Linked DNA regions of Homo sapiens. The protein of the gene in region 1 purifies or fractionates together with the protein of each later gene. This does not show direct contact. Each region holds a gene or a part of one and is shown on either strand. Other genes may lie near its edges.

Region 1 (12,430 bases):
TTGAGAGGGAGTCTCGCTCTGTCGCCCAGGCTGGAGTGCAGTGGCACGATCTCGGCTCACTGCAACCTCTGCCTCCCAGGTTCAAGTGATTCTCCTGCCTCCCAAGTAGCTGGGATTACAGGCGCCCACCACCAGGCCCGGCTAATTTTTGCATTTTTAGTAGAGACGGGGTTTCACCATGTTGGCCAGGCTGGTCTTGAACTCCTGACCTCAGGTGATCTGCCCACCTCAGCCTCCCAAAGTGCTGGGATTACAGGCGTGAGCCACGGCGCCTGGCCTAGGCTTTTCCACTAATGAATAAAACAATTTACTCAAGGAAATATCTGATATTAAATGTTAATATCAAATTTTCCTCTTTACTCACATTCATAGTTCTCTGAAAAGTGAGAACTCACAGGACAGAACCAAAATTAAGGAAAAAAAAATGTTTTAAGCAATGAATTCAAATTTTATATCGAAGGGCATAGCCAGAATACCAAAGTATATCAGGTGAATGAAGGTCCAGGGATAAGAGACAAATGGAAAGAAACACATGAAAGAAGGAACCCAAGATAAAAACCATATTTACTTACAGGATCAACAAAATCCATATTGAGTCCATAACAAAGCTTCTGGATTCGAGATGTAATTTTGTCAAACATGACTCGTTCTTGGCGGCCATCTAAAGAATCAAATCATGTTAGCAATTATTAAATTCATGTTAGCAATTATTAAGACTACAATGTCAAAGAATCAAATGTAATTAACATGTAAATTGACCAACATGAAGTGCTATTTCACAGAAAAGATTGAGGCCCCCTCAAAAGATTCATGAAGAGATTGTCTTCTCTGATGTCACCTTCAAAGAGTATGAATTCTATACAGACAGACGTTTACGGATAATTTCCTAAATTTTTCCCCCATCCCACATGGCAGCCAAAATTACCCTTTAAAAGTTAAACTCAGAATCATATCATTACCTCCTTCAAAACTCCTAATAGTGGCTTATGATCTCCAGAATAAAAGTCAAAATTGTTATAACAATCCACAGGCCAGGCCTAGTGGCTCACACCTGTAATCCCAGCACTTTGGGAGGCCAAGGGAGCGGGGGGGGGTGTGGATCACTGGAGGTCAGGAGTTCGAGATCAGCCTGATCAATATGGTGAAACCCCGTCTCTACTAAAAATACAAAAAATTAGCTGGGCATGGTGGCAGGGGCCTATAATCCCAGCTATTCGGGAGGCTAAGGCAGGAGAATTGTTTGAACCCAGGAGGCGGAGGTTGCAGTGAGCTGAGATCACGCCATTGCATTCCAGCCTGGACAACAAGAATGAAACTCCAACTAAAAAAAAAAAAAAATCCACAGAATCCTATACCACTTGTCCTGTGCACCCACTTCCCAATTTCACCTCCAACTCTCCCACCTTCCTTCCTATTGTACCTTGACAACTTGGCCTTCTTGCTATATATCTCCTTTAGGTCTTTTGCTCAATGTCATCACCTTCTCAATGTGGCTTTCCCTGATGATTCCATTTTAAATTGCAATGCCCCAAATAGGACCCTTGCTCTTCTTATCCCCCTTCCCCTTCTGTGCTTTTTCTCCATTGCACTTACCCCATCTGACATACTATATATTTTACCTAATATTTTTCATGATTTTGGACTTAGATTATATCTTTGTCCTTCTAGACAAAAAAGTCTTACTACTCTTAGTTTAACCTCAAATAGTAGCTCATCCGACCTTTATTTATTCTTACCAGGAATAGTGAATATATCCAACCACCAAACAGCCTTAACCTTAGACAAGCCACAAAACACAATCAGTCATTTCACAGATCTTCATTTGTAGAAAGGGGTTAATTATTATATCTATTTTACTTGCCTAATCAGTTTACTGTGACAATAAAATTAGATAAGGTAAAAAGTGCTTTTGTTGTAACAACTTTGGCATAGTTACAACTATACCTCGTTATAAAATAAAGCTGCTCCTATGGGGGAAAAAAAAATCACAGTATGTGATACACAATAGGCACTCAATAAATGTTAGTGTCTCACACTGATTTAGTTTTTGTCTCTTTTGTGCACCTACAATCCATTGTAACTATAGGCTGAGTATCCTTAATCCAAAATTCCAAAATCCAAAACACTCCAAAATCCAAAACTTTTTCAATGCCAACACAATGTTCAAAGAAAATGTTCCTTGGACCATTTCAGATTTTGGATTTTCTGATTAGGGATGCCCAACCAGTAAGTATAATGCGAATATTCCAAAATCTGAAACAAATCCAAAATCCGAAACACTTCTGGGCCCAAGCATTTTGAATAAGGGATACTCAACCTGAAGTAACCAATAAGAAACATGCTAAATATGTTTACATTTATTTGGCCCTCTGATTCACATCTGTATTCTCAAATTTAGTGCCTAGAACAAGGCAAGTTCTCAAACATTTGATGAAGAATAAATGAACAATAAGACATCACTATTAACCCATTATCACTAGAACAAGTTGCTTTTTCTTCTACACTGATATGTTAGCCCCTCTCTTTCTGATCACCATTGTGATAATTTTCTCATCAGGCTCACATCTGCAGCATTTAACTCTGAAATGGGGTAAATTAACTGGCTGGCACTGGGACTGAAACCTCAGTGCTCTAGCAATTGGATAACTAAGCAGGCAGGTAACTGCAAAGCAACATTAGCGTTCTGCAATTATACATGCAGTGGGGGGGGAAAGCAACTTAGCAAAAAGAAAATTCTACAACTGCCAGAAGTTCTGAAGTCAATCAGGAAACTGACAAAAAAAAAAAAGTGCATTGGTAATTATCTTAACTCACACTTGAAAATAGGAGGCAGACTAAAGATCTAAAGGTCCAATGACACACAGTTCTCTATTCTGTCATTCCACTTGGTTAGTTTTTCAAGCCAGATGTTGATTTTATCACATCACTAATCCCTGCTTCTCACTGCCTACATTATCCTCTTCTCTCAAGCAAAGCCTTTCTTAGTTTGGCCCCAGATCTCTTCAACTGTTCCCTGTGAAATATAAGTCCCAAGAGGGCTTCCCATTCCCATATCCACATCATTGCTTATACCTTACTCTGCCTAAAGGTTCCTCTTCCACCTTTCCATACATCTAACTCCTACTCACCCTCCAAATCTCACACCTCCATAAAACCTGCCTCAACCACTTTTAACTCACACTGACCTTTTCCTCTTTTAAAATCCTCTAGCCAGCAGGGCATGGTGGCTCAGCCTGTATTCCTAGCACTTTGGGAGGCCAAAGCAGGCGGATCACCTGAGGTCAGGAGTTCGAGACCAGTCTAGCCAATATGGTGAAACCCCATCTCTACTAAAAATACAAAAAAAAAAAAAAAAAAATTAGCTGGGTATGCTGTAATCCCAGCTACTCGGGAGGCTGAGGCAGAATTGCCTGAACCTGGGAAGCAGAGGTTGCAGTAAGCCAAGATCACACCACTGCACTCCAGCCTGGGCAACAGAGCAAGACTCCGTCTCAAAAAATAAAAAATAAAATTAAAAAATCCTCTAGCATACTAGTGTGATTTCCTCTTGGCTATAAACTGTCTTTCATTCTTCTCTCTTCAGGAAGACTTCCCTAATCCTGTAAGACCAAGGATGCGTGCCTTTTCCACAGGATACAAACTTTCTAATTCCCTCTGCCGAGAATGTTCAGGCCACAGATCTCACATTACTAGCTCTTAATACTATTTAGGGTTCAGCTCAAATGTTGGCTTCTCAGAGAAGCCTTTCCTGGCTACCCAATCCAAGGTTATTTTCTCATTCATCTTTATCACATGATCCTGTTTTACTATCATCTCATTAATCAGTATCTGAAATTAACTGATTATTATGTTTACTTCTTATTTCTTATATACACTTACCACTCCCACCCACACCAAGAAGTCAACTCAATGAGAAATGTAATTTAGCTTTGTTCACTGCAGAATCTCTAATGCCTACAACGGTTCCTAGCACAAAGAGGTGCTGAATAAATGCTTTATGAATAACTGAATGAATGGCCTCTACTGCCTATACTTTACCTATCAGAGTATTTATCATATTTTATCATATTACTTCTTTATTTGTCTATCTTTCTCAATTGATTGTAGGATCTTTGGAAGCTGGAACCATGTCTGCCTACTCATCACTGCAATCCCGGTGAACAGCACGGTATCCACAGAGTTGTAAAATAATATTAGCAGGCTGTGAATGGAATAGGAAGGAAGGAAGGAAGGAAGGAGGAAGGGACGGAGGGAGGGGGAGAGGGAGGGGAGGGAGGGAGGAGGGCAGGAAAGAAGGGAGGGAGAAAGGAAGGAAGGAAGCAAGGAGGGAGGGAAGGAAGGGAGGGAGGAAGAAAGGGAGGAAGGAAGGGAGGGAGGGAGGCAGGGATAGGGAAAGAATCTGGAATAAAAGAAAGATTAGAGTGCAAATGGATGCTTTCAAAGACATTATTTCGTAAACTTTTGTATCATTTTATGTGTATCCACATATATACACATGTCTGTAAAATGTTTTGTTTTTTACTGTGAGTTACAATCCAAAGTTTTGAAAATACTACACTAAATTCCAAAACAGTTTACAACTCAGTTAGCTACTTTGTCATTTACTGCAATGGTTCTCAATGTTTATTTTTTTAACCATAATCTCCTTGAGGAATGATACTCTCCCATTAGGAAAAATAGCTCAAGATAGCAGATGAAAAAAACTCATCTACTATTCTCTTCTATCTAATAATTTTCATATGGATTGTTCCTAAATCCCTAACAATTTTAAGTTCTTTGAAGATAGAGCTGCCTTCTCCATTACTGCCCTCACAGTGTTTAGCAAGACATTAGCATATTCAGTAGGTACTTCAAAGTCAACTTCCAGTTGCCCTTGTTATTAAAAATAACAAAAACTAGCCAGGCGTGGTGGCACACATCTGTAGTCCCAGCTACTGAGGAGGCTGAGGCAGGAGAATCTCTTGAACCCAGGAGGCAGACACTGCAGTGAGCTGAGATCACACCACTGCACTCCAGCCTGGATGACAGAGCAAGACCCCATCTCAAAGAAAATTAACAAAAACTGTAGGAGTTAGTCTGCTATTCCACTGACATGCCAAAAATAAGGGGGTACAAAAAAAGTCCAGAAAACCAAAAACCCTATGCATATTAAAAAACATTAAAATATAGAAACATAGAAATATAAAAAAAAAAAGAAACAAACAAATCTAAGTACATGTTGTATATTAAGTCTTGCTGAATGCTACAATGGCAGAATCTACAGCATGAACCATCTGGATCAAATTGTGCTCTATGAAGGAATGAGAAAATAAGCTCTGCTTTTTAGAGCTAGTTATAGCTAGCACTTTGTGGTTTTTTTTTTTTTTTTTTTTTTTGAGACAGAGTGTCACTCTGTCGCCTAGACTGGAGTGCAATGGCACGATTTCAGCAACCTCTGCCTCCCAGGCTCAAGCGATTCTCCTGCCTCAGCCTCCTGAGTAGCTGGGATTACAGGTGCAAACCACTACCGTCCGGCTAACTTTTGTGTTTTTAGTAGAGACGGGGTTCCACCATGTTGGCCCAGCTGGTCTCAAACTCCACACCTCAAATGATCCACCCACCTCAGCCTCCCAAAGTGCTGGGATTACAGGCGTGAGCCACCATGCCCTGCCACGCCAGGCCAAGGTAGCACTTTTTAAACGAAAGTATTTAGAAGTAGACTCTAAAAGTTCAAAATTCAACACAGGGTTGAATTTTACCCATTCTGGTCATCTAAGTCCATACATTTTCAATTCATCTTTGTTACTGACTTATCATAGACCATCCTAAACATCTCTCCCATATCTAAAGATTTAAAAAATAGATGCTCAAGCCAGGTGCGGTGGCTCCCAGCACTGTAATCCAAGCACTTTGGGAGGCTGAAGTGGGAAGAATGCTTGAGCCCAGGAGTTCAAGACAAGCCTGGGCAACATAGCGAGACTCCTTCTCTAAAAAAATACAAATAAATAATAATGTAAAAAAATAAAAATACAAAAATAGATGCTCAGCTCTCACTCTTATGAATGGATCAATAAAAGTGCACTATGTTATTTTGCTCTTTGGTCAGCTAAAATGTGAGCTAGGAAAATTCACAGAATGATGTTCTCAAGATACCAAAAACAAGAAAGGCCACTACTGTCCACCTTTCCAACTCTTGTCTGTAGTTAAACCAATCTGGACATTGGCTGTAGTTAAACCAAATCAACTACCTGCTTATTCACAGCATTCATCGTGTCCTACATTTTGATACAACTATTTTCATTCATTCTTTAAGAATCTGTTCATGTCAGGTCCTGTGCTAAACGTGAACAGAAAAGTCTCCATCTTGCTTGTATTCCCAGCACTTTGGGAAGCCAAGGAAGGGAGGATGGTTTGAGGCCAGGAATTCAAGGCCAGACTGGGAAACACAGCAAGACTCCTTTACTACCAGAAATTTTTAAAAATTAGCCACTCATGGTGGTGCATGCCTATAGTCCCAGCTACTTGAGAGGCTGAGGCAAGAGCATCGCTTGAGCCCAGGACTTCAAGGTTACAGTAAGCTATGATTACACCACTGCATTCCATCCTGGGTGACAGAGCAAGACTCTGTCTCAAACAAGTCTCCATCTTTGAAATGTTCACAGCCTAGAGGACAAAATAGAAACAACCAGTCGATTAACCAGTATTTACTAAGTGCCTACAATTTTGAAATCATTGTATTGCTTTAACAAAGGCAAGTAGGTTCAACTCAAAACTTGTTCATACGTATCTCATGCGGTTGTTAAAAGTATGTTGCTCTTGTTTTTCCAACCCGATGAAGCCTGTTCCCAAGGCAGGGACTGTCTCCTCCTACAATCTCACAAAGCCAAGCAAAGGGCTGGGCACAAAGCGGGCACTTGGCAAGTCTAATGAAAAAGAACTGTTGAGAAAGAATACGAGTTCCTGACTCTTCCCAGTCCCCATCTTGTCAGAAGATGTCTCAGCCACCCTTCTCTGATTCAGCATCTCTTCCCATGAAGGGAAAGGAACTCGAGGGTGCTGTCTGTCTGGGATCTGTTTTTTCCACGCCACACTCCTATCCTCACCCCACAAAAGAGATCAGTAAACTGACAAGTGCCTACGGAGGGTAGAGAGGCCCCCTCCTTCTTTCCTAGCTGCCCCCCGACCCTGTGCCTAAGACAGCTCACCAACCCCACGGTTTTCAAATCAAACCGTATTGTCACCTATGGGTGACTTTGGGTCAGTCGGCGACACCTCGCTCTGAGCGTCAGTTTCCTCATCTGTAATAAGCTAATCATCTCTCAGAGGCTTGCAGGGAGGAATAAAATAGTGCCTGGCAAGTGCTCGGCGTACGCAGTCACTACTCGATACGGGGTAAGTGTTATCCTTTTGAAAGGCGGCAGGATGACAAAGCCGAGGGGGCGCAGCCTGAAGGCCCGAAGGAGGTTCGGGGCAGGCTGACTGAAGACAGAAGGCCGAGCGGGCTGACAGGGCGGAAGGCCGCGGCGGGAAATGCGGGAAAGGCGGGAAGCAGCGAAGGCGGGCGGGCGGTCTGGGCATCAGCTCCGGCGGCGGCAGCCCGCATCCCCTCACCTTCCTTCTCGCCCACCTCGTCCCCCCCTCACCTCGCTTGATCACATGCATCGCAGCTAGTGGCTGAGGCTCTGAAGGATCCAAGACTGGACTGCGGCTCTAAAGCGCCGGCGGGATCGAGAAGGTGACAGAGTGGGAAGGGTTAGGTTCCAGGCGCTGCTCAGGGGAAAGAACTGGAGTTGGAGCCAGACAGCACTTTCTTCAGAGCAGAGGCGCAACAATCCAAATCCCCTTCCCGCGCCCGCCACCCGTGACGCACAAAGGGGCGCGACGGGGTTCGAATGACGTTACTCGACGCTGCGGCCCACGCCCGGGGTAGGCTTCACAGACTGACAGGCGACGTGTAGCCGCCATGTTGAGTCTGGGCAAGACCCAGAAGACTACGCCTCTCCCATGGGCCCCATTGGATATGGACATGCCCGGCGGAAATGCTGCTCTCCTGCTACCATGTTTTGTGTGGGCAAGCCGAGTTCGGGACCCTCGGGGCCCTGGCGTAGCACCTAGAGCCCGCTGGGTCAGGCGCCGCCCTCTCACCTGCGCGTCTCCGCCGGAGGAAAGGCGGTTAATTTATTTTTGAAATAACAAAACCTAACCGGCGGGAACGTTTTTCTTGCTCTGACATTTATTATAATAATACTAACACTGCCGTCCGCTGTGGGCTCCAGCCCAGGCTCCACAGCCGTGGGCAGCTTGGAGCCCCAGGGCTTTTAGATCGGCCAGAGGACTGACACTCTGGAACTGGAAGAAAACCGCGCAAGGCCGATGGCGTTTGGATTTTATCCTGACGCAAATCAGAGCCCTGAGAGAATTTTAAGCAGGGCAGGGTCAGTACCCATTTGCTTTTAGGGTTCTTCAGTGGATGGTGGCAGAGACAGGGTATTTGCCTTGTGGAGGTAGGATGGACTTGGTGACTTAGAGTGGAGAATAAGAATAGATGAGAACCGTAATATGTAAGGCTGGTGTAGAAGCTTCTGATTTGGGCTACCCAAAGCGATCTTTATGAAATTTCATCTGTGGCATCTTTTCCCTAAAGCCTTTTCGTTGGTTTCTCACTGCCCTCCAGAAGCTGCCCAGGCTCCCTGTGAAGTAATTTCAAAAATCATGGAAAGTCGTAAGTGAGCCTGTAATTGCAGCATTTTGGGAGGCTAAGGCGGGAGCATCATGTGAGGCCAGGTGTTGAGATAAGCCTGGGCAACATAGTGAGACCCCATTTCTACAAAAAATAGAAAAAGTAGGCCAGCGCGGTGCTTCACTCCTGTAATCCCAGCACTATGGGAGGCCAAGGCGGGCAGATCACGAGGTCAGGAGTTCGAGACCAGCCTAACCAACGTGGTGAAACCCCCCCGCTGCTAAAAATACAAAAAGTAGCCAGGCATGGTAGCACGCGCCTGTAATCCCAGCTACTCAGGAGGCTGAGGCAGAAGAATCGCTTGAACGCTGGAGGCAGAGGTTGCAGTGAGCCAAGATCGCGCCATTGCACCCTAGCCTAGGCAAGAGAGTGAGACGCCGTCTCAAAAAAAACAAAAAAAAAGAAAGAAAAATTAAATAGATATGTTTTTTAAAAGTCGTAAGTGAAGTTATAGGATAGATAGGGTCAAGTTTACCCAGACATAGGGTTTCCCAATTTAGCAAATAAAAATGTGTCCCAGATACTGCATGAGAGAAAATTATACTTTAAAAACTGTTTATCTGAAATTCACATTTAACTGGTCATCCTGCATTTATCTGGTAACCCTGCCCACAGAGCTTCTGGGCATGTGCATTCAAGTTTCATTTTCCCTGGGCAAAGGAAAGATTGTCTCTTTATCCCATCATGCCACAGCACAGAGAACACAATGAGAGTCAAAGCCAGCAGTGGTTAAAATCTCCTACATGCTTTATTGGACTTCAAAGAATTTTATGAAATAACACAGAAAACCCCATTTGAGGGTGTCCAGGGAGTACAAGGCAGTCTGCAGCCTAGCACCCTCCTAAGACCAGCCCCAGGTATACCCACCCCAGGCCCAAAATAGGATCCCAGGATAAAGGTATGGCAGGGAGTGGGGCAGAGGAAAAATACCTTTACAGCCATAGCAAAAACAGGTAAGGGAGAGAGTTGTCTAGAGGGTGGGAAGGGTGGGGGAAAGTGGTCACACAGCCGCCTTCACCTATACCATCTTCCTTAGCCACCCCTTCCCCAAACTGGTTGTGTCCTTTTTGAGCCTCTGGCCAAGGCTACAAAGTAACATGAAAATGGGATCTAACAAGGGGAATATGCAGCGTAGGCACTTGGGAAATTCAGATTACTTTTTTTCCTTTTAACCTGTTTGTCTTTTGGTTCAAAAAATGACAGCATCCTTGCCCAACAACTCCAGGGCTCCATAAGAGCCCTGTATCATGGCTGTGGCTCTCCTGGCCAGGGGAGCCACTTGTCCTGAGCCCTAGGAGTATTGATGCTTGGGGAGCTTTGGGGCAGCACCTCTTAGAGACAAATCCTCCTGCAGTGTGGGGGAGCAGGGGTAAGAGGGAGGCAGGTGTGGGTGGGAGTAGAGAGAAAAAGTGACTGCCTTATAACCTACAGTTCTGGCATCCACTCATGCTCCAATGAACAGATGCCTCTCCCAACCCATTCCCAAGCCTGGCCTCTCTTTAAAAGTCTCTGGTGGGTTGTTCTCTGAGAATTGGTTTCACTCCCCCATGGATCCCTGGAGGCCTGAGTGAGATTAGGATGAGGCTCCTTCTGACCCACATCAATACCAAAGAACAAACTTCAAAGATTAGGCCCTAGCCCCAGTCTGGAGCAAACAGAACCACTGTGAGTGGGGTGGAACAGATCTGAGGCACACATGTCAGAAGCTACTCGTCCTATCTTCCCTGCAACTGCTAGGGGAAGTTGGGGAGTGGTGGGAGGGAGGAGCCCGAAAGCAAGAGACAGAAACAAGAAACCAAACCTCAAAACTGGGACAGCAGAGACAGAAGCTGAACCCCAGAGGTGGAGCTGGGAGCTGAGGGAACAGCAACTAAGACATGCACTGAAGTGGAGAGGGAGTGACAGCAGCAGCCCATGGTTGGGACGGAGGCAGGGCAGGCAGGCCATGGTGGTCAGTTAATAAATAATAATGAAGGACCCAAGGATGAGGGGGCAGGTATGTACAGTGCCCAGACCCCTGGACCAGCCCTTCCCATGCCCCACTCTTGGGGCCAGTTATCTTGAAGGAAGGGAGGGAAGGAGAGACAGAACACCCAGGGAAGGACAAGCTGTCCCTTTACTGCCACCCCATCCTGCCTACTTCTTAAGAGGCTTCTTAAAGATTTTGAGGGGAAACTTCTTCCGGCCTGGGCTGGAGTCTGTTTCCTCGCCAATAGAGCCATTATCCTCCTCAGCCACAGCCTTCTTGCCAGCCAGGTGGGGAATGCGTGTGTTTCGGCTGGCTTGCAGGGCTCGGCTGTCCCCAACTGGAGATGGTGTGTCTGGGTCTGGGGAGCTGGGGCTGTGAGAACGGGAAGAATCCAAATGTGGAGAGCCACCAGGTGGGGCTGAGGGGCTCAGCTCCATCAGGCTGTGGGCCTTGTCCAGCCCATGGTTCAGCGCCAGTAATGCCTTCTTGGCCAGGGCAGGGCTGTCAGGCAGTTTCTCCACCAGAGACCCTGGGTGGACCCCCTCGATCAGCCGGTGGCTGCCATTGGAAGTCATGGCATTGAGAGCCTCGTCTGCAGCACGGCTCATCTGAGGAGGTTTGGGGGCCACACGCTGGCGGTCACTCATGTGGAGGGAGGACTCCGAATCGGAATGGGTCAAATCCCTGCAAGACATGGGGCAGAGAGGAAGAAAGGGACATATATTGGATGAGGTGATAGGGGAAAGGCGAAGAGGAGAGAGGGACAACACGAGAAGACAAGGACAGGGTAGGAAAATGGGGATAGAGCGGCAGGAGAGAGAAATAGGATGAACAGGCAGGTGGGAAGGAGAGAGGAAAGAGGAATAGACAGAAGTTGAGCAGCCATAAGTATAGGATAAGAGAGGAGGCAGGAGGAGGGAATGAGGATAGATTGGAAAAGAGACAGGAAAAGGAGAGTAGAATTGTAGAGGAAGAAAAGCAAAAGGATAAGCAGGTAGAAAGAAGGGCCAAGAGAGAAAGACAAGAAAGGGAAAAGTGATAGGGAGGGAAGAAACAGATAAGAAACAAAAACAAATGTCATCATACCATCATCTGTCTGGCAAATGGTTTTCCAATACCTGGGCCCCACCAGTGGTGAATGCTCTGGCTCTGAACTGGTGCAGCCATAGGCTTAAATTCCACAGGCGGCATCCTCAATAAAATCTCTGCCTTCTCATAGCTGGCTGTATTTCCTGGGACTCAAGCTAACACAGAACCTACAGCCTGCTCCGAGTCACCATTTTCCATGCCTTCCTTCCCCACTTACTCCTGTCACACCTTAGGATATTATCCAGTCTGGGCCAGGCCCCAAGGAACAGGGCACATGCAGTCAGTGGACCTGACCCAGGCTGGAGATGAGAAGGTTAGAACAGCCTTGCAAATAATCCTTCACCCACCCCAAAAGGCCAGGATGCTGCCTCTTCTAACCATCTCATAGGATTCAAAGGAGGTCATAGATAGGTATTGCAGAGTTCAAACCAAAGTCTGTGGTGCGGCAGGAAGGGTGGGGTCTCTTTCAGAACTCTGCTGACGGAGAATGTAGGGAGGCATAGAAAGACAGGATGTTGGCCTTTAAAGAGCAGTGGTTCAGAAGAGGTCTGGACTCCTGTGTGATCTTGGACAAGTCAAGTCATCTAAACTTGCTAGTCCTTAACTTTGGCCTAATGAAGATAATACCAATTCAATTTATCTTACAAGACTGT
Region 2 (11,855 bases), on another chromosome or scaffold:
ACAAAAATCAGCCAGGTGTGGTGGTGTGTACTGTAGTCCCTGCTACTTCGGAGGCTGAGGGAGGAGAATCCTTTGAACCTGGGAGGCGGAGGCTGCACTGCTCTCCAGCCTGGGTGACAGACTGAGACTCCATCTCAAAAAAATAAATAAATAAAAAACAAAAATAAATAAAATTAGGGAAACAGACAACTAATCTGAATATAAACTGAGTTGGGCTTAGAAGGGAATAAACGGAAAGAATGTCGCGTGGCAAAGGAGGAATCAACAGAATATGGGAAACAACTGTGAGTTAATGAGAGGAAGGTGTCAATAATTACTTAATACCTGTAACTTCTTGTATTATAATGGACATACTACCGCTTTTGGGGGACTCTTCCACGTGAAGAATTTTCAAAATGCAAAGTGACAGGCGCCACTGTTCTTTGTAGTAATTTTGATATTCTTGTAGAGATCACTTATTAAAAGAACGTTTCATGCAAATGGCATCAGTAATGGATATCTCTTTCTGGACCCATGCTAAGTCCTCCAGAGTTTCAGTCACTTCAAGAACTACCCTTTCGACACACTTTAAGTACATATGGATTCACTAGAATCAACTTTGACCTATTCATCAATGATAACTGCCCTTTTCACAGCTGGAGTTAACTGTGAGCTTAAAACTACTAACAGCTCTGATGTTTAAATTAATCATATGCTACAATGTCATTTGTCCCTTACTTTCTTTTCTTTTTTTTTGAGAGAGAGCGAGACTCTGCCACCCAGGCTGGAGTGCAGTGGTGCTATCTCAGCTCACTGCCACCTCCGCCTCCCAGGTTCAAGCGATTCTCATGCCTCAGCCTCTGGAGTAGCTGGGACTACAGGCACATGCCACCATGCCTGGCTAATTTTTGTATTTTTAGTAGAGATGGGGTTTTGCCATGTTGGCCATGCTGGTCTTGAACTCCTGGCCTCAAGCAATCTGCCCACCTCGGCCTACCAAAGTGCTGGGATTACAGAAGTGAGCCACTGCGCCTGGCCCTTCCCTTACTTTCTAACTTATTCTAGTTTCAGAACATTATTTTACTGTATAAATGTATAAGCTACCCTTTAACTATATTATTTGCTTACAGCTTCTGCATACCCAATAAAATAATTCAGTGCTACCACAAGTTCTGATTATCTATGATACGCCATCTTTGTTTACTTACACGTTGCATTGGAATATATACACACATACACACATGCTATTATAATATAAATCTAGAACAATACATGTTTTTTAAAGAGGCAACTTTGTTCACCAAAAATTATTCATATTATATCCTTTTCTACCTCTTCCCTTCCAACTCCAATTTTTTTTTTTTTTTTTTTTGAGATAAGAGTCTCGTTTTGTCACCCAGGCTGGAGTGCAGTGGTGCCACCTCGGCTCACTGCAAACTCTGCCTCCTGGGTTCAAGCGATTCTCCTGCCTCAGCCTCCTGAGTAGCTGGGGACTACAAGTCTGCCCCACCACGCCCGGCTAGTTTTTTGTATTTTTAGTAGAGACGGGGTTTCACCTGTGTTAGCCAGGATGGCCTCAATCTCCTGACCTCATGATCCACCCGCCTCGGCCTCCCAAAGTGCTGGGATTACAGGCGTGAGCCACCGTGTCTGGCCCAACTCCAATTTTTAAAAGGTTTCATTTTAGAAAAAAATAATTGGTTAGGTGTACTTCTTTGCAAAGAACAATTAAATGGATGCAATTGTGAAATCATACTATCAAGGATAAATCTCTCTAAACTACATTGAATGGCTTTTAAAAAAATCTGCCTCTAATAAGAAATAAAAGCAGAAATAGAACATGAATATATCCAGGTTTGTTCCCCAAGTTAGCTCTGAACTCATAAGTGGCAGAGAACTTTGAGAGATGATTTGCAAATCTACTTTTTTCTAATTAAAAAAAAATCTACCAACATTTTGAATGTTCATGGTATAAAAAATTTTTAAATTAATAAAATATTTTATTCCTCCACCGGTCAGGGTCTCTTAGAAAGTTGTGAGATCTTGGGGAAACCTACATAATATCTCCACGTGTCAGATCTCTCCAACCCTGGAGACATGAAAATCTTGTGAAGATGAATGGAGAGAACCTGGCCAAACAGTAAGCACTCAAGTAATAATAGCTCCAAACAATCTTTCTATTTGCCTTTTCTTTTATTCGAAAACCCAAATTCTTAAGTCTCATTTATGAAATTTTTATTTATTTATTTTTTAAAAAAAGGAAACCCAAATTCCCTACAAAAAAGGATCTTATTAAAAGGCCGGCCACGGTGGCTCAAGCCTGTAATCCCAGCACTTTGGGAGGCCAAGGAGGGTGGATCACGAGGTCCCGAATTCAAGACCAACCTGATCAATATGGTGAAACCCCGGTCTCTACTAAACATACAAAAATTAGCCGGGTGTGGTGGCACTCGCCTGTAATTCCTGCTATTTGGGAGGCTGAGGCAGGAGAATGGCTTGAACTCAGCAGGCGGAGCTTGCAGCGAGCCAAGATCACTCCACTGCACTCTAGCCTGGCGACAGAGCAAGACTCCGTCTTAAAAAAAAAAAAAAAAAAGGCAACTGTCAATACGCCCAGGTGCAGCCTAATTACTTTCTATGTTTACTCTAGGGACCTTTGGATTAAAATTCAAAATTCATCTTAGCATACCTCTGTATTTGAGTAATATGTGTTCCAGGATGATCGCAGAGACTCCTGACCACCAATATCCCACATAAGAAAATGAGTGTTCTTCACAACTATTTCTTCAACATTGCTTCCTATGGTTGGAGAAGTATGAACCACTTCATTCATTAAGCTGTTGAAAAACAGACACCGTAAAAGCTCTTGTAAATCTTGAGAATCTGAAGCAACTTTTATCTCTGTATTTTTAAGATCAATCAACCTTCTGCACCAATGATGGTGATCATTAGCATGAAAATTATAAACCTGGAGAACACTTGCGCAAATCAATATCTAGATAACAACTCCAGAAGAAAGACTTGTTTCTTGTTTGTTTTTTTTTTTAACGGAAGGAATTGCAAGCTTGATGGAAAAGAAAGGAAACAGTGTGGTGTGAATTTGCATTTCTGTGGCCAAAAATTCCAATACCACCATGCCCTGTTATCAGTTAGATAAGACCCAATGTCCCATGCCATCCTGAAAAGCAAGTTTCTAGGTGATTGCAAAATAGCAAATATTGGATAGCAGGCTATCTATAATTTTGAAGACTGTCTAAATTGAGACTTAGTCACAAAAATTAATTCAGGCATATTAATCTAAAGTAGTCCTAAAAAGATGACCATGGGCAAGTAAAAATTTAAATTAACTATAGATATATTTAGAAGGCCAGGTGTGGTGGCTCACACCTATAATTCTAGCACTTTGGGTGGATCACCTGAGGTCAAGAACTTGAGACCATCCTGACCAACATGGTGAAGCCTCGTCTCTACTAAAAATACAAAAATTTGCAGGGCGTGGTGGTGGGCGCTTGTAATCCCAGCTACTCTGGAAGCTGAGGCAGGAGAACCGCCTGAACCTGGGAGGTGGAGATCACGCCATTGCACTCCACCCTTAGAAACAGAGCAAAACTCTGTCTCAAATATGTGTGTGTGTGTGTTTGTGTGTGTGTGTATATATATATATATATATTTAGAATACTGATGCTCATACCCCTCGTATTATCATAATCATTGGTAAAGCTACATTAATCAATTAATTCAACAAATATGCCCTTGCCAGTAACATGTCACTACTGTGTTGGAGGAGGCTTGCAATTCTCTTGGGTTTTATGTATATTTTTGAAGCCATGTGTAAAATTATTTCAACAAAGATGACAGGTTTCTGAAATGTTTATATGTGATGTTTAAAAGCTAATTCATATTTAAACACATAATCACCAATGAATGAAAATGTTTTCAAGAGAAACAAGTAGTTGTTCAACTCTGAAACAACAAACTTTAAGTCAGTAGCTTTTTAGCAAAGTAGCTGAAAAATGCGTTAATCACTGGCTAATGAAGTACTTCTGGTGAGCTGATGGCTGTCTTCTAATGCAACATGAGTGGGAAGAGGTAAGAGCCACACAATGGGGCAAAGAACTGTAGAACTATTTTGTTAAAGTGCCTGGTAGATCCACTTCTACTGCTTAATACTATCATTTCATTGGCATTGAAAGGATAATGGAAGGTACTCTGACAAGTGGAATGATGAGCTGTGAAAATTTCCTAAGGTATTAACAGATTTCTCTGAAAGTCTCAAGACTCTCCCTCTTGCAAGCTACTACAGCAATATTTTCAGGAGTGATCACATTTCTTTTGACAAGTCTGGCTATGTTAAAAAATTCCAAAGCTATTAGTCAGGAGGGTAGCAATGGCTTCCTAGAGCTATCAATTTATTTACATAAACCCAAGTGGGGTAAGAACTAAGTGAAATCCACTTTATCACCTCACCCCAGCACTTCTAATATGCGCTTTATTTATTTAATATTAATTTCTTTCTTTCGAGGGCAGAAAACAATAAGTGTTTGTGAAGGGTTTAGCAAATGTTTATTTCACTCACTTTTCTATAGATTGTGTTCGGTAAAATTAAAAAAACAAAAAACAAAAAACATATATTTAAGTTTTTCCGTCATTATTATAATGCATCTCTTATTAATTGTAAACACATTAGTTTCAATAACTAGTGAAAACTGTTTAATAAACACCCATACTTACAATTGGTAAAGAATGGTGGTTTTCCCTGCATTATCCAGTCCCACTATAATTACTTTGTGTTCTACAAAAAGAAAGCAAATCATAAACATTTAACACTACTGCATTACTGCAATTACATGCTTTCAACAATGATTATTAGTTAGCTCATTAATGAGAATCATTCACTGAATATCTATCACTAGACTTAAAATGCAGAAAGAAATGTTATGATGTTAAGGCTACCTAGGTTAAGTAACAAAATCAATTATCATTGATTCTCTGTCTAGTTCTCATGTAAAAGAATGTGGGAGATGGGTAGGCAGGAAACACCAGCAAAGTTGGTCACTTATATTGCATCTAGGGGAGAGGAGACCCAAATATTAATCTAGGCAAAAATTATAACCTAAATGTAAGTTTTTTAAAAAGCCTGTTTTACACACCTTTTTAGCTCTGTACCAATCAAGTTAGCTTTTTATCAAAATGTTTTCATATCTGTAAGTTTCCCCACCTATGTATACCAGGATCTGTTTCTTCCTCTCACTTAAAAATCCCATGTAAGCTTAAAATTGAAACGTTTCATGTGTCACAAAGACAAACATATACTCTCAAGTTTTTACACAATTACTCATTGTTTAACATTTTTTCAACCGGCTTCTACAGTTCTTTTGAGCAGATTCTGTTTCTGCTCTTTGTACAATGAAAATCTCTTCAGTTCTTTCCTCCTTTGGGTGCCATGCACTAAATATTCACCTCTTTTAATAAGTAGTTGCTAAAGCTCATCTAATTATTCCGTTAAGTGGTATATATTCTGCAATGTCCTTTGAATACAGAAAACAACCCAGATACCATCTTTCCTAGATTTTCACTTATGCCAAGTATACTAAAGATCCCCTTCTCCAAGGCAGAAGAATGCTTAAAAAGTTACAAGTTAACATCAACAGGGTAAGTAGGGAAGTTTCCACAGAATCACAACACAGTTGATTTGTAGGCAACGATTGGGCACATCTCATATCAGAATCCCGCTCTTCTTGATGACCTCTGGTGAATGTCAACATTCTGGTCATATAATCAACTATCAGCTCATATTCCTACTCTGAAGTTCTAAACTTCATCAGCCAAAAAAAGAGGGACCAAGAAAATTTAAGTTCTTGAGATGTGCAGGTCTTCCAATGACCTACACACTCTAGATACAGCCTATTACAGTGCAGGATAAACAGACACGGTCCTCTGGAAGGGCTATTTTCACTATGGTAGAAGCTGCTTTGTAAAACAAAACAAAACTTGCCTGCTTAGTATAACTCACTATAATTCTCCTTATTTATTTGAGACAGGGTCTTGCTTTGTTGCCCAGGCTGGAGTGCAGGGGCATGATCACTGCAGCCTCGACCTCCCAGGCTCAAGTGATCCTCCTACCTGAACCTCCTGAATAGCTGGGACCACAGGTGCACACCACCAAGCTTGGCTACATGTCCTCTAATGAAGCTAATCTTTAAGTATTACCCTGTTTGTTATCCCTTAAAGTACAAGAACCTTTATCAGTGAGGAACAAACAGACTGCCTGGCACTAAGCATTCTAAATTTTGGTGACAGCTAGAAGCTCCACCTACCAAGCATCTACAGAAAACAACATGCCTGCAGTGGTGAGAAGGAAGCCACTAGTTTAAAGATAAGCAAAACTTGAAGGCAGATAATCCTGTTGGGAGAAAGGAATGGAAGGACAGTACCAGATGGCTCCTTCTTGAAGCAACTCAAATGAAGACCCAGGTCATTTGCAAACAATCCTGCTCCTTGCTTCACTTTTGCACTATGATGCTTCACATAATACTGAAGGCCTGTGATGGTAAAACTCACCAATAATGCACCATTTTGAAAGGTAGGTCCCTAACATGAGGAAATGTTAGGTTAAGACACTACTGTTAGGCCAGGCGTGGTGCCTTACGCCTGTAATCTTAGCACTTTGGGAGGCCGAGGTGGGAGGATCACGAGGTCAGGAGATCAAGACCATCCTGGCTAACACGGTGAAACCCTGTCTCTACAAAAAATACAAAAAAATTAGCCGGGCATGGTGGCGGGTGCCTGTAGTCCCAGCTACTTGGGAGGTTGAAGCAGAAGAATGGCATGAACCCGGAAGACGGAGCTTGCGGTGAGCCGAGATCGGGTCACTGTGCTCCAGCCTGGGCAACAGAGCGAGACTCCATCTCAAAAAAAAAAAAAAAAAAAAAAAAAAGACACTACTGTTACTATCAGTTACAGTAAATCAGAATGTTTTAGGCCAGGTGCAATGACTCACACCTGTAATTCCAACACTTTGGGAGGCCAAGGAGAAGTGATCAGTTAAATCTAGGAGTTTGAGACCAAACTGGGCAATACAGTAATATCCCATCTCTTAAGAAAAAAGTTAGCCAGGTCAGGCATGGTGGCTCACACCTGTAATCCCAGCACTTCAGTAGGCTGAGGTGGGCAGACCACAAGGTCAGGAGTTCAAGACCAACCTGGCTAATTTGGTGAAACTCCGTCTCTACTAAAAATACAAAACTTAGCCGGGCATGGTGGCAGGTGCCTATAGTCCTAGTTACTTGGGAGGCTGAGGCAGGAGAATCACTTGAACCTGGGAGGCAGAGGTGGCAGTGAGCTGAGATTGCACCACTGCACTCCAGCCTGGTGACAGAGCAACACTCCGTCTCAAACAAAACAAAACAAAACAAAAACAAAGAATGGTCTGGAAGACAGGATGCAGATAGATGATAAGTTTAAGTTTAGTGTGTTTGAAACCTGCTTACAGTCCAGAGTTAAGAGCAGAATAAGCTGGGGCCGGGCGCAGTAGCTCACACCTGTAATCCCAGCACTTTGGGAGGCCGAGGTGGGAGGATCACAAGGTCAGGAGATCGAGACCATCCTAGCTAACATGGTGAAACCCCGTCTCTACTAAAAATACAGAAAATCAGCCGGGCGTGGTGGCAGACACCTGTAGTCCCAGCTACTTGGGAGGCTGAGGCAGGAGAATGGCATGAACCCGGGAGGCAGAGCTTGCAGTGAGCCGAGATAACGCCACTGCACTCCAGCCTGGGCGACAGAGAGAGACTCCATCTCAAAAAAAAAAAAAAAAAAAAGAGCAGAATAAGCTAAAGAGAGAAATGTGAGCCACAAGATCTGAGATCTGAGCAGTCAGAAGTAAAGGACAATAATCATACGCAATTGGCAACCAGTGTTCAAAATGATAACATGAAATTCATGGATTGGAAAGAAATGATTAAATTATGAAATTAAGATGTTACTGTTACATGGTTCTGAAAAAGAACTACAATTAAAACTGTATTTCATTTGTTCTTAATTCTGGGTAACACTAGAAATAACTGGCCAGGTGCAGTGGCTCACGCCTGTAATCCCAGCACTTTGGGAGGCGAGTAGATCACCTGAGGTCAGGAGTTCGAGGCCAGCCTAGCCAACATGGTAAAATCCATCTCTACTACAAATACGAAAATTAGCCAGGCATGGTGGCAGGTGCTTGTAATCCCATCTACTCCAGAGGGTGGGGCAGGAGAATTGCTTGAACTTGGGAGGCAAAGGTGGCAGTGAGCTGAGATCACAGGACTACACTCCAGCCTGGGTGACAGAAAATATAACAATAATAAATAAAATTTAAAGACATCACTGGGCCAGGCATAGTGGTTCACGTCTGTAATCCTAGCACTTTGGGAGGCCAAGGCGGGCGGATTACCTGAGGTCAGGAGTTCAAAACCAGCCTGACCAACATGGTGAAACCCCACCTCTACTAAAAATACAAAAATTAGCCGGAGTGGTGGTGTGCGCCTGTAATCCCAACTACTCAGGAGGCTGAGGCAGGAGAATTGCTTGAACCCAGGAGATGGAGGTTGCAGTGGACCGAGATCGCACCACTGCACTCCAGCCTGGGTGACAGAGTGAGACTCCATCTCATTAAAAAAAAAAAACAAACAAACAACAAAAAAAGAAATAACTGATGACAGGTTTCCACAATCATAACACTGAGAGAAAAAGACTATGCCTACAAAAGTTCAAAAGAAATTTAAAAAACAATGCAAAACTTTAGAGGTGAGCTATCAAACACACATAACACATATGTATTTCACAGAACTACATTAACATATAAAATGTTTGCAGAGATAATCAGAATTCCAAATTATTTCCTTGAATAATAACTGTCGAAGTAAACAGGCTTCCAGTTCAAACAATACAAAATTGCAGGAATTAACTTTTACATTGCTTTACTTAGACAACACACGCTTTAGTATACTTATTCACAGAAAGGTATCTAATTTATAAGACGCATGAGACTCTAAAATGCTACAGGAAAAAAAAGGATGAGAATGTGGAAATACTGGAAGAAAGACACGGGAAAGGAGCACATAAAGTAAGATCAGTAGTTCTTAACACTGGCTGCACATTCGATTTACCTTGGCAGTGATGCCCAGGCCTCTTCACCCCAATCTAATTTAGTTGGTGTGAGGTGGCGCTTTGGGCCTGTTATTCTAATATATCTAATTCCACTGGAATAGATAAATATAGTTACAAAAATGGAAAATGCTGAGATTGGTAGTTAATTTTGTTGATGCAGAAAACAAAAATATAGGCTAAGATACATCTGTGGATTAAACCCTTCAGTGAGTCCCATTCCTTGCTCTAGAGAGTTTAATGTCTTAGTCAACACTGGAGGCCCTCTGTGATAAGGTTCTCCTGGTTGTCTTTCCAATCTCATCTCCTCTTCACTCCTCGCAAGCAAACTAACACACAGCCAAGCTCAACTATTTTCAGCTTCCCTAAAAGTACCAAACTAGCTCATTCCTCTCCCTTTTGCATATTAGCTCTTCTGCCTAGAATAACACGTCCCTTCTATTCGGTCTGTCTAGCATGCCACCCAAATTCCTACTCATCATTACATTACGTCCAAGTATACCTTGTGCTGCAGCCAACGTTATATTTTTACACATATCTGTTAAATAATTTACCACACTGCATTTTTTTTCATGTTTGTCTCGTTTATTGATGTTTGAATACTTTGCCAAGAAGTAAGGTATCTTTATTCTTTAATTTTGTATCTCCTATGCTAAACTCTGAAGACTGGCCTATGGCTGTATGAATGAATAAGAATAAAATAACAGAATAATCACTGGTTCTAAATTTTCCAACAGGAAAGTTAGAGGAAGAGAAAAATTCTAAGTAGAAATGGAGATTCAGGAGGCCTGAACAATTATGCGAGTATAAAAGTAGCCACTGGATGTCTTTCATCACCATCTACATTTTCCCCTTACATCTTTTATTACCTCTAGTCTGAGTAAGGACACCTCCAACGAAAAAAGACAAGACAGCAGCCATGTAACAGAAAAGGGAGAAAGGAAAACGGGAAAGGATATAAAGGGAAAACCAACTACTTCGGTAACGTTTCGATTCTCCAGCTCAGGGGAAAGAGAAAACTGGTGATTTTTGTATTAATCTTTATACCTTTAAGCATGTCTTAAAATGCTGTTTTACCGCTGGGCGCGGTGGCTCACACCTGTAATTCCAGCACTTTGGGAGGCCGAGGTGGGTAGATCACCTGAAGTCAGAAGGTCGAGACCAGCCTGCCCAACATGGCGAAACCCTGTCTCTACTAAAGATACAAAAATAGGCCGGGCGTGGTGGCGGGTGCCTGTAAATACCAGTTACTCGGGAGGCTGAGGAACAAGAATCGCTTGAACCCAGGATGCAGAGGTTGCAGTGAGCTGAGATTGCGCCACTGCACTGAAGCCTGGGCGACAGAGAAAGACTCTGCCTCAAAAAATAAATAAATAAAAATAATATTTTAAATGTATGGATAATACCCACAAAGTGTGAAGCTCTGCTCACTTTGAAATCATTTGATAAGTAATATTATCTGTGGTTACTGGATACAGGCATATACATATATATACACATGTGTGTGCCTGTATCTATATTTATAACCTTGAAAAAGACTGCTTTAGTGTTCTTATCAATCTACAGAACAAGTCAACTAAAGCCATTCCATTACCTCCACAACTTCTTAAATCCAGAAAAAGATTAGATACCTACATTAGCAGTAACAAATTGGTACCAACATAAAAGGAAATAAAACTGGCTTATTAACGATGCCCGGCTCTTAAATGTAAAATGAAACGAGTTGATTTTCAAAACTGGTTTCAATTACTAAGAAACCATTCTGTTCAAAGGACGCCTCAAACTTTAACTTATCGTCGGCCCCTTTTTTGGTCTGGGTGTTTTCTCTCTTCAGAAGACATCACATCTCATTCTGATTCAGAACAGGTTTTGCAACTTCTCGGCCCTTTGGACCTGCCACTTCCAGGTGTCTCATTACCTGTTACAGACTAATTACGGACACGTAACGTCTTACACAAAACCGAAAAGCATTTAGTTTCTGAACTAAATGCTTTAAAAAAAAAAGTTTACAATGAAGATGCTGGAAAACTCGTGCATCTGAATAGGACAACTCATTCCCAAGTCCTAGAGGAAAGGAGGCGAAATCAGAGTGAAAGTGCACTGGCTTACGGCTCAAACTGCAGGGCGGGAAAACAAAGCACCTACATTACTCAAAAAAAAAAAAGTTCTAGGTTTCTGGGCGGACACTTATCCTGGGGATACACATAGACACAAGCACGCTTCAATAAAGACGAGAAAGGCCCTCCATACGCCTCCTGGCATCATTAGCTGTATCCCGCTTTACTTCGCCAATATCCAAACATTCTCAGTTTGGATTCTGGGACGCCAAATACCTTCTCTTCTGCCTCCCTATTTCTCCCACACGTCAGGTCTCTCCTGTACGTCCTCCAGGTCTAAAACACTGAGTTTCTGCCCGCCCCCTGGCCTAAGTCCCTTCCTCCTCCGCGTCTCCGAACGCTCTGTCCCCTGTCTCCGGTGTCCCCATCGGCGGCGGGACCCTCTGCCTCGGATTCGAGCCGCCGCGCAGCTCCATTCTTCTCACCTTGGTTACAGAAGAGGCTCCACAGTTTGGCGAAGATCAGCCCCATCACGAGCACCGGGGCGGGCCGCGGGGTCCCTCGGCAGCAGGTGCCGCTGCGCCGGGTCCCCCACCGCGGCGCGGGCTGCGCGGAGCCGAGGAGAACCCGCCTGAGATCGCGCAGCGAGGGCACTGCTAGGCCGAGAAGCCTCGACCC

The links.
Region 2: the proteins of RRM1 (region 1) and ARL5B purify together in Homo sapiens (affinity purification with mass spectrometry; 2 studies listed by BioGRID and IntAct, with this or other methods). This does not show direct contact.

The regions. Positions count from the first base shown.
Region 1 is NC_000011.10:4,090,224-4,102,653, reverse strand, and holds the start of RRM1 (ribonucleoside-diphosphate reductase large subunit), read right to left. Parts: upstream 7,856-12,430; 5' UTR 7,642-7,855; coding exon 7,623-7,641; intron 662-7,622; coding exon 573-661; intron 1-572. Other genes in the region: STIM1 (stromal interaction molecule 1 isoform 1 precursor), read right to left, coding at 10,856-11,372. UniProt on the Homo sapiens protein: Provides the precursors necessary for DNA synthesis. Catalyzes the biosynthesis of deoxyribonucleotides from the corresponding ribonucleotides.
Region 2 is NC_000010.11:18,659,491-18,671,345, reverse strand, and holds part of ARL5B (ADP-ribosylation factor-like protein 5B), read right to left. Parts: 5' UTR 11,709-11,855; coding exon 11,663-11,708; intron 11,620-11,662; exon of another isoform or gene 11,454-11,619; intron 4,772-11,453; coding exon 4,711-4,771; intron 2,817-4,710; coding exon 2,669-2,816; intron 1-2,668.